Linked DNA regions of Homo sapiens: region 2 is linked to region 1. The links come from fine-mapping of genetic effects on gene expression. A gene starts in region 1. The other region holds a variant in brackets. All regions are shown on one strand. Distances are between the middles of the regions.

Region 1 (5,352 bases):
AAAACCCTGGATCATTTTGAAAGATGCTCATGGACGCCATCTCATTGGGGCTCATCACAGTATCAAGGTAGAAGAGGAAGCTGAGACCAGTAAGATCACATGGTGGCTGAAGGTGGTGTGGCTAGTCAGGGACAGGTCCCTTGGCCACAGAGCCACTGGCGGGTGGCAATGTGCCACGACCATGGGGTCTGGCAGAGATGGCAGTGTCCCTGGCCACAGTGTCCAGCAGCAGCATGGCAGCCGCAGCAGGGCTCTGTGGTCAGACAGGGGTGCTGCTGTGACCTGAGACTGTGGGCTCCTTTGAAGGTGGTGACCCTGCCCCTCGTGTGGAGCCCAGCTGTGCTGTGGGGCTGAGCTGTGGTGTCCTCCTCTTTCAGGATGTGGCTCTGTTTTCACTGCCTACCAGCTCTCCAGCCTTCCCCTTGGTTCTTGGAGACCTGATTTGCTTCCAATCAACCCCTTCCTACTCAGTGGCCAGCCTATTTCTCCATTTGCAACCAGCAACCCTGGCTATAACTTCTGGGGAAACTTCTGGCTATAACTTCTGAGGCACGGAGCGGGGCAGGAGCTTGCCCAGGGTCACAGCGCTCTCGGCCAGTCTGGGAGTGGCAGCCAGGCCACCTCCTCCTCCTGCAGGAAGCTTCCTCCACCTTTCAGCAGCCCTGGAGCCGCATGGAGCAGGGAAGGGAGTTGTCTACCCTCCGGCATCCTGTGTGTTCCAGGCTGTGTGGGAGCAGGTGCAGCTGCCAGGCATGGCAGGAGCCTGGGCCCGGGCCAGCACTCAGGAATGCAGCAGGGCCCTGCCTCTCCCTGTAGGGATAAGCAAGTGCCAGGCGCCCAGGGCAGCGGATGTGTCTGTGGCTACAGCCCCAACGGCCCCCGCCTCCGCACCGGCTGTCCTGGGCCAGCCCCTTGGGGGCCTGGGATGTGTGGGGAGCATGAATGGGGCTCTGTGACCCAGCAACTGTTCTGCGGAAGGCGGCTGGTGGCTGCACAGGTGACTGCGGGGGTGGGTGGGGGATGCAAAATTCTGCTTCCTGGGCCTGGTGTCCCCCGCCTTGCATGAGGCCCTGACAAGACATCACCGAAGCACCAAAGCCAACCCTTGTGGCCCACCGGAGACCTGTCTCTTGGATCACAGGGGCAGTGGGGAGGGGCGCCCAGGGCTCCCGATGCCTCTGAGCCCTGCTCTGAGGTCAGCCGATGTGGCTCAGTCCTGGCTGTGAGGCCTCACGCTGCCCTGATTCCATTTGCTCCTCAGTGCGAGGCAGACAGAGCCCAGCCTAGGGTCTGGATGGGATGAAATGAAGACGTCTCCTCCCTAACGGGACACTGTCTACCCCTTCCTTCTTCTCCCCCGAGAACCGTCAGCCCCGTGAGGATGGGGTCTAGGGTAGGGCATGTGGACGGAGCTTTGCTGTTTGTCCAGGTGCTTATCTTCTAGGGTGCCATCGCCCCTCCCCACTGCTGTTCCCGTATCTGCTGGGTGTCCCCAACCCCAGGGTGGTGGAGGCCGTCTCTCGGATGGGGCTGACACCCAAGGCACGGACCTGCCAGGTCCCCCAAAGCACATGGCCTCTCTGCAGAAGAACCTGGATGTGACATCTAATGCCCAGGCCAGAGCTTGGGGACAGCTGGACTGGAGCCACAGGGTCAAGGAGGGGGAGTCCAGAAGCGCAAAGTCCACCCAGCTGGGAGGGCTGCTGGCAGGTCCTTTACAAAGCAGGCAGCTCCTCTGCCCATCGGAGCCGGCTGGCCTAACCAGGGCCTGCTCTTGCCTGGGATGGGGGCAGAAGAGGTGGAGACCTGGGGCCCTGAGGCGGCACTGTGGGTCCTGGACCCGCCCACCTGCACTGGGGTCCCTGCAGGCTTTTAATGGGAACAGAAATGGAGGAAGAGACAGAGGCTGCCAGGGGCTCCCCGACCCCTACTGCCTGCCTGGGGAGGGGTCACCTCAGTGTGGGGGAAGCCTGGGGATGTGAGAGCATCCTAGGCCTGGGCTGCCTGTGGCCAGTCTGTTGTCCGGGTGTCTAGTGACCCCTGGGGTAGGGGCAGATGCCAGTCTGGGAAGCCGGATTGTTTGAAGACCAACTTTAAAGTTGGGAGCAGTGCCCAGAGCGGGGCCGATGTCTGCTAGGTGGTTGTCTCTGCTTTTTGAAAAAGAAGTCCCCGCCCGACCCCCGCCCCGCCAGGCGCTGGTCTGAGCGTCTGAGCCCAGATGGTGCGCTTGCTCCAGAGGGCGGGCGGCTCCAGTGGCCGCCGCGGGACGGTGGGGCCAGAGGGGCCCGTGGGGGTGGGGGAGCCGCCCGCAGGAGAAGGAGCCCCGCCCGCGCCGGCCCTGGAGTCGCCGGTGTCGCCGCCCTGCCCGCGGGCCCGCCCTCCTGGCCCAGCCCAGGGCCCTGCGAGCTATTTTGAAAGTGACCCTGGGCTGGGGCGCCGGGGCGAGCGCGGCGGCGCGGAACCATGACAGAAGATGACCGAGGCGGCGCTGGTGGAGGGCCAGGTCAAGCTGCGGGACGGCAAGAAGGTCGGGGCGCGTCGGGGGCGCGGGGGGGGGGGGCGCGGGCGCGGGCGGCGGCTCACGCTCCCCCCTGTCCCCGCAGTGGAAGAGTAGGTGGCTGGTGCTGCGGAAGCCGTCGCCCGTGGCAGGTGAGCGGGGCGGGCGGGGGACGGGGGGCGCGGGGGTAGCGACACGGGTTACCGAGGCCCGGGGCAGTAATGCCAGCTTGCCCAAAATCGCCGCCGCTGTCACCCCGCCGGGAAACCCGAGAGCCCCGTGCGGACCCGGACCCCCCGGCGCCCCTGGGAGCGCAGGTGGGGGCCCTGGACGGAAGAACCCTCTTTCCAGCAGGGCAGACTGAGGCCCGAGGGGCTGCCTGGTGGCCCTGTAGGCGGAGGGGACGCAGGCCCTGAGCCCCCCAGCAGAGCAGCAAGGGGCCCCCCAGAAGCAAAGCCCCACATACCTGAGGGTTGAGCTGTGCTTGTGGAAACGCTCAGAGCAGGGCCCCCGAACCCAGCCTCCAGGGGTGCTGCGTGGGTTAGCGCTGACCCTGGACCCCTCCCAGGCAGACGAGAGGCTGGGCTGCGGTAGGGCAGGGCAGAGTGACTGCCACATTGCTGGGGGAACAGTCCTCTGGGAGGAGGCAGGGGTCCCCCCCCAGTCCCCGCCCTGAGCCAGCACCCCAGCTTGGGGAGGGTCAGCATGGAGCCCCCAGGTCTGGCAGCCCAGGCCGCCTGCAGCGCTGGGCCTGTAGGGAGGGCTGAGCCGGGCCTGCAGCTGCTCCAGAGGACAGGTGCGGCAGAGCCGGCCAGGCCCGGGTCTGGGTGGGATGCTCGGCCTGTGTGCATGGGGGGCTGTACGCCAGGGGGCTGCCAGAGCACCCTCCAGGACGGGTGTCTGTGACTCCCAGGGAGGGTGTGGGGCAGGGATCCCTCCTGCGTCCCCTCTGCAGGGCCTCAGGTGGTCCTGGAGGAAAGCACTTCCTGCCTGCCTCCGCCTCCCCTTGCAGGGCCTGGACTGCACGCTGGTCACTTCTCCACTCAGCCCTCCGTGCCCAGACCTCCTGCCTGGAGCTGTGGGGGCACCGACAGAGCCTGGGAGGGCGTCTTTGTCCTCCGGGGCTGCAGGGGACCTGGTATAGGAAGGGATGGGGTCTGGGCAGAGTGAGAGGCCCTGCCAGGCTGGGGCGGATGACAGGCTTTAGTCAGCTGTGGCTGGGTCGGGGCCGTGGTGGGGCAGGTGATGCTTGGTGGATGGTGCTGGGCTGGAGCCGGTGCAGACCCTCCAGAGAGGCCGCATCCCAGGAAGGCACCCGGGACAGCAGCCCCCAAAGAGGAGTGTCGGGGGAGAAGTCTTTGTCCCTGTTGGAGGGATTTTCTTTCTGCATCAGACAGTCCCAGGAGGCAGGGCCTGCCAGCCTCAAGAGGGTGTGCTCCCCCGGCCGGTGAGTGCCTGAGTGGAGTGACAGGAGTTTGCAATGGGTCCCCCAGGTGGGACAATCTGTGAGTCTGTAGGTGAACATGGTGGCTCCCGAGCGTCTGCTGGGTTATCCCGTATCCTGCGCAGTTGAGATCTGCAGCCTTCTGGGGCTGGCGTGGGAGGTGATGTGGGGTAGTAGAAGGTGCCATGCCCCCTCTGGGTGGATGTTCATTCCAAGCCTTGAGGCCAGGTGTCCCTAGCACCCACTGACTCACTGGCCTGGGACCCATTGCTTTGGACACCTGCTTTCTGTGTTGGTCACTCCAGCAGCCCAGGGTTGAAACTGACACCCTGTGGGGTTGCCCAGAGGTCGGTCAGATGAGGGGATGGGACAGAGCGGAGTTCTCACGCCCACCTCCCCACCCTGACCAGGCCAGCCTGGCACCTCCTCTCCGCTCAGAGGCCCTGATGCCTCTTCCCCTGGCCCCTCATAAGCCTCCCTAGATGCTGCCCCCTTTGCCTTCACCCAGCTGCCTTCCCGCTCAGCGCTGGAGACCACCTCCCTTGTGGATGGGCCCGGCGTGGAGGGAGCAGGCCCCAGCCCTGGAGGAGCAGACAGCACAGACCCTGCGCTCCTGGTGTGAGGGAGAGAGGAAGGGTCCCGTCTGCTTCCTTGTAAGACAGGCAGGGTTCTTTTTGTTACCAGTGGTGATTTCCTTCTGGGAAGGGCCCCGATGTGCACCTTTTCCACTGGCACCTTTCTCCTCCTTGCGTTTTTCTCAATCGTGAGCACGTCTTTCTGTTATGACAAGGTTTAGCGAATGAAAGGGAAACCCTTTTATCAAAGGGCTGCTCAGCCACAGCGCCTGGCATGGCCAGTGGACGTCGGGCCGTCTGCCTCGGTGTGGGACTGCAGGGTGCCCTGCAGTGGGACCACGTTCCTCAATGTCTCCACCGCGTCCTCACTGCGGAATGCGTGTCTGCGTCCCCTCTCTGGGCAGGGCCCCGGGGGAGGAGGGTGGTCTGTGTCCAGTTGTGGCCCAGGACTCACTGCTGGTGGCCCTGCATGCCAGCGGCGCCTGGCCCAGCCCCTCTCTTCTTCCTCCCAGGTGCGGGGGCTGGGGGTGGTGAGGAAAGTGTTCTTGACATCCTGTGGAGAGTGTGGCCCCAGGCCAGACACTTGAGGGGGCCTGCTTCCCACAGGGGCTGCCCCTGGGGGCTTCATCCAGCTCAGAAAAGCCACCGGGAGGGCCCGAGTCCTGGAGCTGGCAGGGTCTTGGAGTCACCATGGTGGGGGGAAGCTGAAACTCAGAAACCCGAGGGATCTGGCCCAAGACATGGACTGCTGGGCAGAGCCCAGTTCCCCCCAGCCAGCCCAAACCTTGCCCCCCACAGCTGGCTGGAAGTTCCGCGCCTGCCCCCGGGCTGATGGC
Region 2 (5,352 bases), 23 kb after region 1:
CTGGCACTGAGTGAGCCAGCCAGCAGACAGCATGACGGCCTTCTCCTTGCCTGCCCCCAGGGCCTGGTGCAGGCTCTCTTCTGCCCACCCTACCCAGCTTGGGGGCCCCACCCCATCACGGCCCTCATGAGCCTCTCGGGGCATCCTCCTGGATGGCATCGCAGCGGGCATTGGCCTCCCCTCCATGCCCACCTCCAATTCTGATCAGGAGCACCCCTCACCCACAGTAGGACTGGAAGCTCTATCGGGCCAGAAGGTGCACAGGGGGCCAGGGGACTTGGACTTGAGTCCACCTCGTGGCTGTGTGATGGTGGACAGGTGGCGTGCCTTCTCTGGGCCTCAGTGTCCTTTTTGCTAAAGTAGGAATGGCGCTGTCCCATGACCCGGTTTGGGGACACTACGTGGAAGGAAGCATCCACAGCACAAGGTGCCGCTCGCCCTCGTGTGCCCGGGGTGGCTGCCAAGGGGCCGGCAGCGTCGCCACGTGTCGGGGCTGGCCTGAGTTCCGTGTCCCTGGAATCTACAGCCTGTGTTCCGTGAAGGCAGAGCATGACTGGGCAGCAGGCAGCGGGGGTTCTAATGCCGAGATTTCCCTTCCCCCCAACTCCTGCCCACCCCGGCGCCTTCCCTCCTGCGTACCTTTCTTTGGGCAATGGGCAGAGGCCCCGGAGCGGGCGGGATTCCTGTGAGGTGACGCCAGCCGGAGTGTCCAGCCGGGTGCAGCCAGCCCAGTGGCCCATTCACGCGGCCGCCAGGGCTTCATTCACCCCTGGCCGGGAGGGCAGCGCCCCCGTGACTCGCAGCTGGGGCTTCTCCACGGGTGGCGGCTGCATCGCTCTGCCAGTGACGCTGGGCTGGTCCCTGGGGGCCCTCCTGCTGCTGTGGGGGTGCAGGGGTGGATGCTGGCCCCAGGATGCTGCACACGGCCTCAGGGCAGCACCCACACACTGGCAGCTCCAGCTTCCCCTGAAAGATGACCGAGGAGGTGGGGAGGACGCGGTGCTGGCCAGCAGTGACGGCTGCAGCATGTGTGGGCAGGTGCCGTGCCACACCTTTTACAAACATCTGAATGCAGCCCTCCCAACAGCCCGGGGGAAGGAAGTGTGGTCACATGGCAGCCTTCCTGGGATGTGACCCCAGCTCCAGGTGGCACAGCTCCCTTCTCCTGTGGCCTTGGAGCCCTGAGGGGACCCTACTTGATGTCTCTGGGGTCTCCTGGCTGCTTCATTTGCCCTCAAGACGGCTGTGGGGGCAGGGTCGCTGGGACCTTGGGGCAGAGGAGGGACTGATCAAGTGCCTGCTGGGTGGCAGAGCAGCCACATCCCCCCATCCCCCCAAGCAAGCCCGGAAGGCAGGTATGTGGGCGGGGGCACCCATCTGTCCAGGGCAGGGCACCCCCTCCCTCCTCCCCATGCCCTGTCGGCTGCAGGACCTAGGATGGGCGGGGCAGCACTCACCCCAGCGCCCAAGTTTGAAGGGTGCGGCGGGGTCCCTGGGGAGTCCAGAGGCTCTGGGGACCCAGCTTCACAGAGCCAGGTGGGGTGTCGGCTCTGGGCACCCGGATTCACGGGGCCAGGCGGGGTGTCGGCTCTGGGCATCTGACTTCGTGGGGCCAGGCAGGGTGTCATTGTCGGCTCTTGGTGGAGTTTGCTGCGGTTTCCTGTGTTCCTCCTCTTCAGGGTCCCCAGCCCGCCCTCGGGCCAGACTGACCTGTCTCTGTCCTTCCTCTGCAGGGGCTGGCGTCTTCTTCCTGTCCTCGGCCGAGGGGGAGCAGATCAGCTTCCTGTTCGACTGCATCGTCCGAGGCATCTCCCCCACCAAGGGCCCCTTTGGGCTGCGGCCGGTTCTACCAGGTGCGTGTGGGAGCCTGGCCGGCCGGGGAGGGTGCGCTCGGCAGGCTGTGCGACGTCCCGGGGCGGGGGGCCACAGTGATTTGTCAGCCCCAGTTAGATGGCCAGCCTCCCCACCCCCAGCTAAGGAACCAGAACCTTTCCAGGCCAGGATTGCAGCCTGGGCTTCTGCAAGCCCTGCTGAGGGATTCAGAGCAGCGGGGGCTGGGCTCGTACCTGCAGGTGCTCTCCCTCGGGGGTCCGAGCTGTTGGAACGCTTGGCCCTAGAGCTTTCTGGCTGGGACAGTCAGCCACAGCTGCCACTGTGCAGTAAGAGACCCTCTGACCCACCACCACCATCTTCCACGCCCAGGAGCAGGGAAGGCCTTGCCCGAGCTCGGTGGCCCGGGGGCAGCTGGTCTGACTCTGCAGCTGGGGTCGGGACTGGCTCTGCCTGAGCCC[G/A]GTGTTTAGGCCCAAGGCCACCTCGGGAGGTCCCCTGGCTGTGGGGTCTCAGGACACGTTGGGCTGAGGGGGTCTCGTCTTGTCTCACCCACACTTCCTTGGCTGTGGCTGCGGCACTCTCTGCAGGAGTCCTTGGCCAGGGATGTTGCTGGACCCCAGAGGGGCTCTGGTGCCTGGGCACGGTGGGGCTCCCCAGGTCGGGGCGGGTGCTGGGCCAGGTGCCTCCATGGGCTCTCTCAAATGCTCCTCTTGCTCCACGAGGGCAGCGCTTGACCCAACGTCCAAGTGAGGCCAAGGCCTAGGCCATGTGGCGGGTGAGCAGCAAGCTCACATGTGGCGCCTCCTGGCACTGGCACCCCCGCCGTGGTGTGGCGGGGAAGGGTGACTGGGAGGGCAGAGGCGAGCAGCATGTGGGGTGGGACCTGGGCCTCCCTTCTCCTGGCCACAGCCCCCAATGCCCCCTGCCCACACCAGCAAAGTCCCGTTGGGGGCAGCCCTGGGAGTGGGGAGGTGGCACCTATGGCCAGCGCCCTCCCCGCTGCCCTGCCATGCTGGATGGTGCAGCTGCACCCCTGTAGGTGTCTTCCTGCCTAGTGGATGCACCCCTGCAGGTGTCTTCCTGCCTAGTGGATGCACCCCTGCAGGTGTCTTCCTGCCTAGCGGCTGCAGGCAGGTGTGGATGGTGTGGTCAGCGTGGATGATGTGGTCGGTGTGTTTGGCTGTGCAAGGCGAGGGTGTGCAGAGTGCAGGGCGGGGACAGGGCCGGGCAGGGGCAGCAGGAGGCTGAGCAGGGCTCCCTGCTCTCTCCTGCTCCCCTCAGGCAGTTCCCGGGGAGCAGAGGGAAGCAGGGAAGCAGTACTGGGCAGAGGATGCCAGGGAGGGTTTGCCTGGGACAGCCACTAGATGGGACAGGCTCCACCGCAGGCAGCACGTGGGCCAGCCCCAGGCGGGGCCATTGCTGACAGCTGGAGGGGGTTGGGCTGACCAGAAGTCCCAGACCCCACTCCACAGGACATCTTTGTCAGAGTCAGCTGGGAGCTCTCAGAAAGCTCTGTTGTCAGGGCCTCGGCCTGCAGCTGTGCCCCCAAGCTGTGCCTCTGCAGGTGTGTGGGGGCCTCAGGCCACCCGGAGGTGGGTTGAGCTGGGACACTATGCTGGGCAGCACCCCACCAGAGAAGCCGTGGGCCCAGCCCCCGCAGGCTGGACTTACTGGAGGGTCTGGGCTGATGGGTTCGTCTGCCTGTGCTGGCAGCACACTGGAGCCCCGTGATCACAGGACTCCCACAATAGAGCCCTGCGGGCGGCATCCTCAAGCTCTGGGCTTTCTGCCGTCCTCCTGTGCTGAGCCCGCTGTGACCCACTGGAGGGGCCAAGAGATGCAGGAAGTCCAGCCCCTTGGTCTTCCGCATGTGGACACCGAGTCCCAGAGGCAGCCAGACCCACCAGGAGCAGGAGGGAAGGGCTCAGAGGTCTGGGGTCCACCATGCTCCGAGTATGGCGTGCATGTTACCTTCTTGGCCTGGCCTCCACGGGGGTGCACCGTTGCTGCACCCCATTTTGCAGACGAGGGTGAGAGGCTCAGGGGGCGTGTGGTGGAGCTGGGAGTCGATCCGTGTCTTGCTGGCCCACCAGTTACTGGACGGGAAATGGTGGGAGGTTGTGTCCTGCATCCTGACCCTGGTGTCACCGAGGGGCCACTCTCCGTCCCACCTGTGGGGCATTGGCTTTGAGGGTGGCCCTGGTCGGAATGTCCCAGGGCTGAGGGGCAGTTGTGCTGTCCTGTCACTGTGCTTGTCTTCAGCCTGGACCCTCAGTGCACCAAGGAGCCAGGACTGGTGCCTGCTGTCCTGCCCACGTGGCTGAATGTGTCTGTGAAAGTGCCAGGAGCTGCTAAGCCGTGTGGCCTGTGGGCTCCATGGCCACCAGCAGGCCGTGTCGGGAGGGACTGATGCCTGAGCTGGCACAGCCTTGGCTGCCATCGCCTTCCACCCTCCCAGGCACAGGCAGGGAGGGGACAGGAGAGAGGCTTGTGCCACCCCCATCCCTGTCCCCGGCAATGCTACAGACAGGGCCACAGGGTCTTGGGCTGGCAGGGCCCCAGGCTGACCGGGGCAGTGCCTTGGGGTGGCCATACCCAGAGGTGGGGGAGGCTCCTCCAGGCCCTTCTTGTGTTCCTGGGCCCGGTGCTGTGAGCTCTCACCTGCCCGTGGGGAGGGCCCTGTTCTGAGGTCCTGATGGGGTCTCCTGTAGTGAGCAAGGGCCCCAGCTGGGCACCTGTGTGGGCTGAAGGCATCAGCAGAGGACAGTGTCCTATCAGGGACAGGGCCTCTTCAGCCTAGATGTGAACCTGGACAGGGACACCATTGCTTTCTCTGTTTGTTTCTCCGGAGCGCTGACCATGGGGTCGGGACGTCTGGCTCCAGCCTCCGCCAGGCTGGGTTCTGTCCGCTGAGGCTCTGATCTAGGTGTCCCAGGCTGGGGACTGTACCTTCTGGTCCTCTGTGCGCTGCAGAATTTGGTGTAAACTTTTCATGCTGCCACTGCTCCTGGACTTTGGGGAGAGCAGGTCCTTGGACCTGTTTCGGCTCAGTCCTGCAGGTGCCCCCAAGGTGGGTGTCAGGAGGTGTGTTCTGGAGGCCCAGAGGAGGCCACTTGGAGCAGGACGGGGTCGGTTTGCTCTTGCGGGTGTGGCTGTGGCTTCCCTGCCAGGGAAACTCTTTGGGATGGCTGTGGCCGTGGGTGCTGTGGATGTGGAAGGGGCAGGGTCTTGAGCCCTGCTGTTTGGAGCAAGGTAGCCACTTGGCCCAGTGTTCACATCACTTAGTGCCTGGGACATCCCAGCATGGGCGGGGGCTTGGGGACCAGGGCAGTGATGCTGAGGCTCGCAGCAGCGGTGCTGAGGGGCCAGTGAGAGGTCCCACCCTGCCTGGGCAGGAAGGGGAGGTTTCCTGCCACTCAGTCGCAGAGGACACATGGACGATGAATAGAGAAGGCGAGGCTGGTGCTCCCTGGATGCAGCCCTGAGGGGAGGGGCTAGGTGGGGCCGAGGGTCCGCAGACCA

What was found.
Region 2: its variant is fine-mapped to the expression of DOK7 in whole blood (TOPMed, PIP above 0.99).

The regions. Positions count from the first base shown.
Region 1 is chr4:3,460,903-3,466,254 of GRCh38, forward strand. DOK7 (docking protein 7) reads left to right here and starts at 2,404. Exons shown (of 7, transcript NM_173660.5): 1 at 2,404-2,527; 2 at 2,604-2,649. The coding sequence starts at 2,474. RefSeq lists enhancers at 1,182-2,029, 4,947-5,352.
Region 2 is chr4:3,483,806-3,489,157 of GRCh38, forward strand. It overlaps DOK7 (docking protein 7), which reads left to right. Exons shown (of 7, transcript NM_173660.5): 5 at 1,734-1,853. LOC105374355 (vegetative cell wall protein gp1-like) reads right to left here and starts at 1,032. Exons shown (of 3, transcript XR_007057994.1): 1 at 640-1,032. RefSeq lists enhancers at 583-1,782, 1,784-2,750. The variant G/A (reference allele first, on the strand shown) is at 2,292.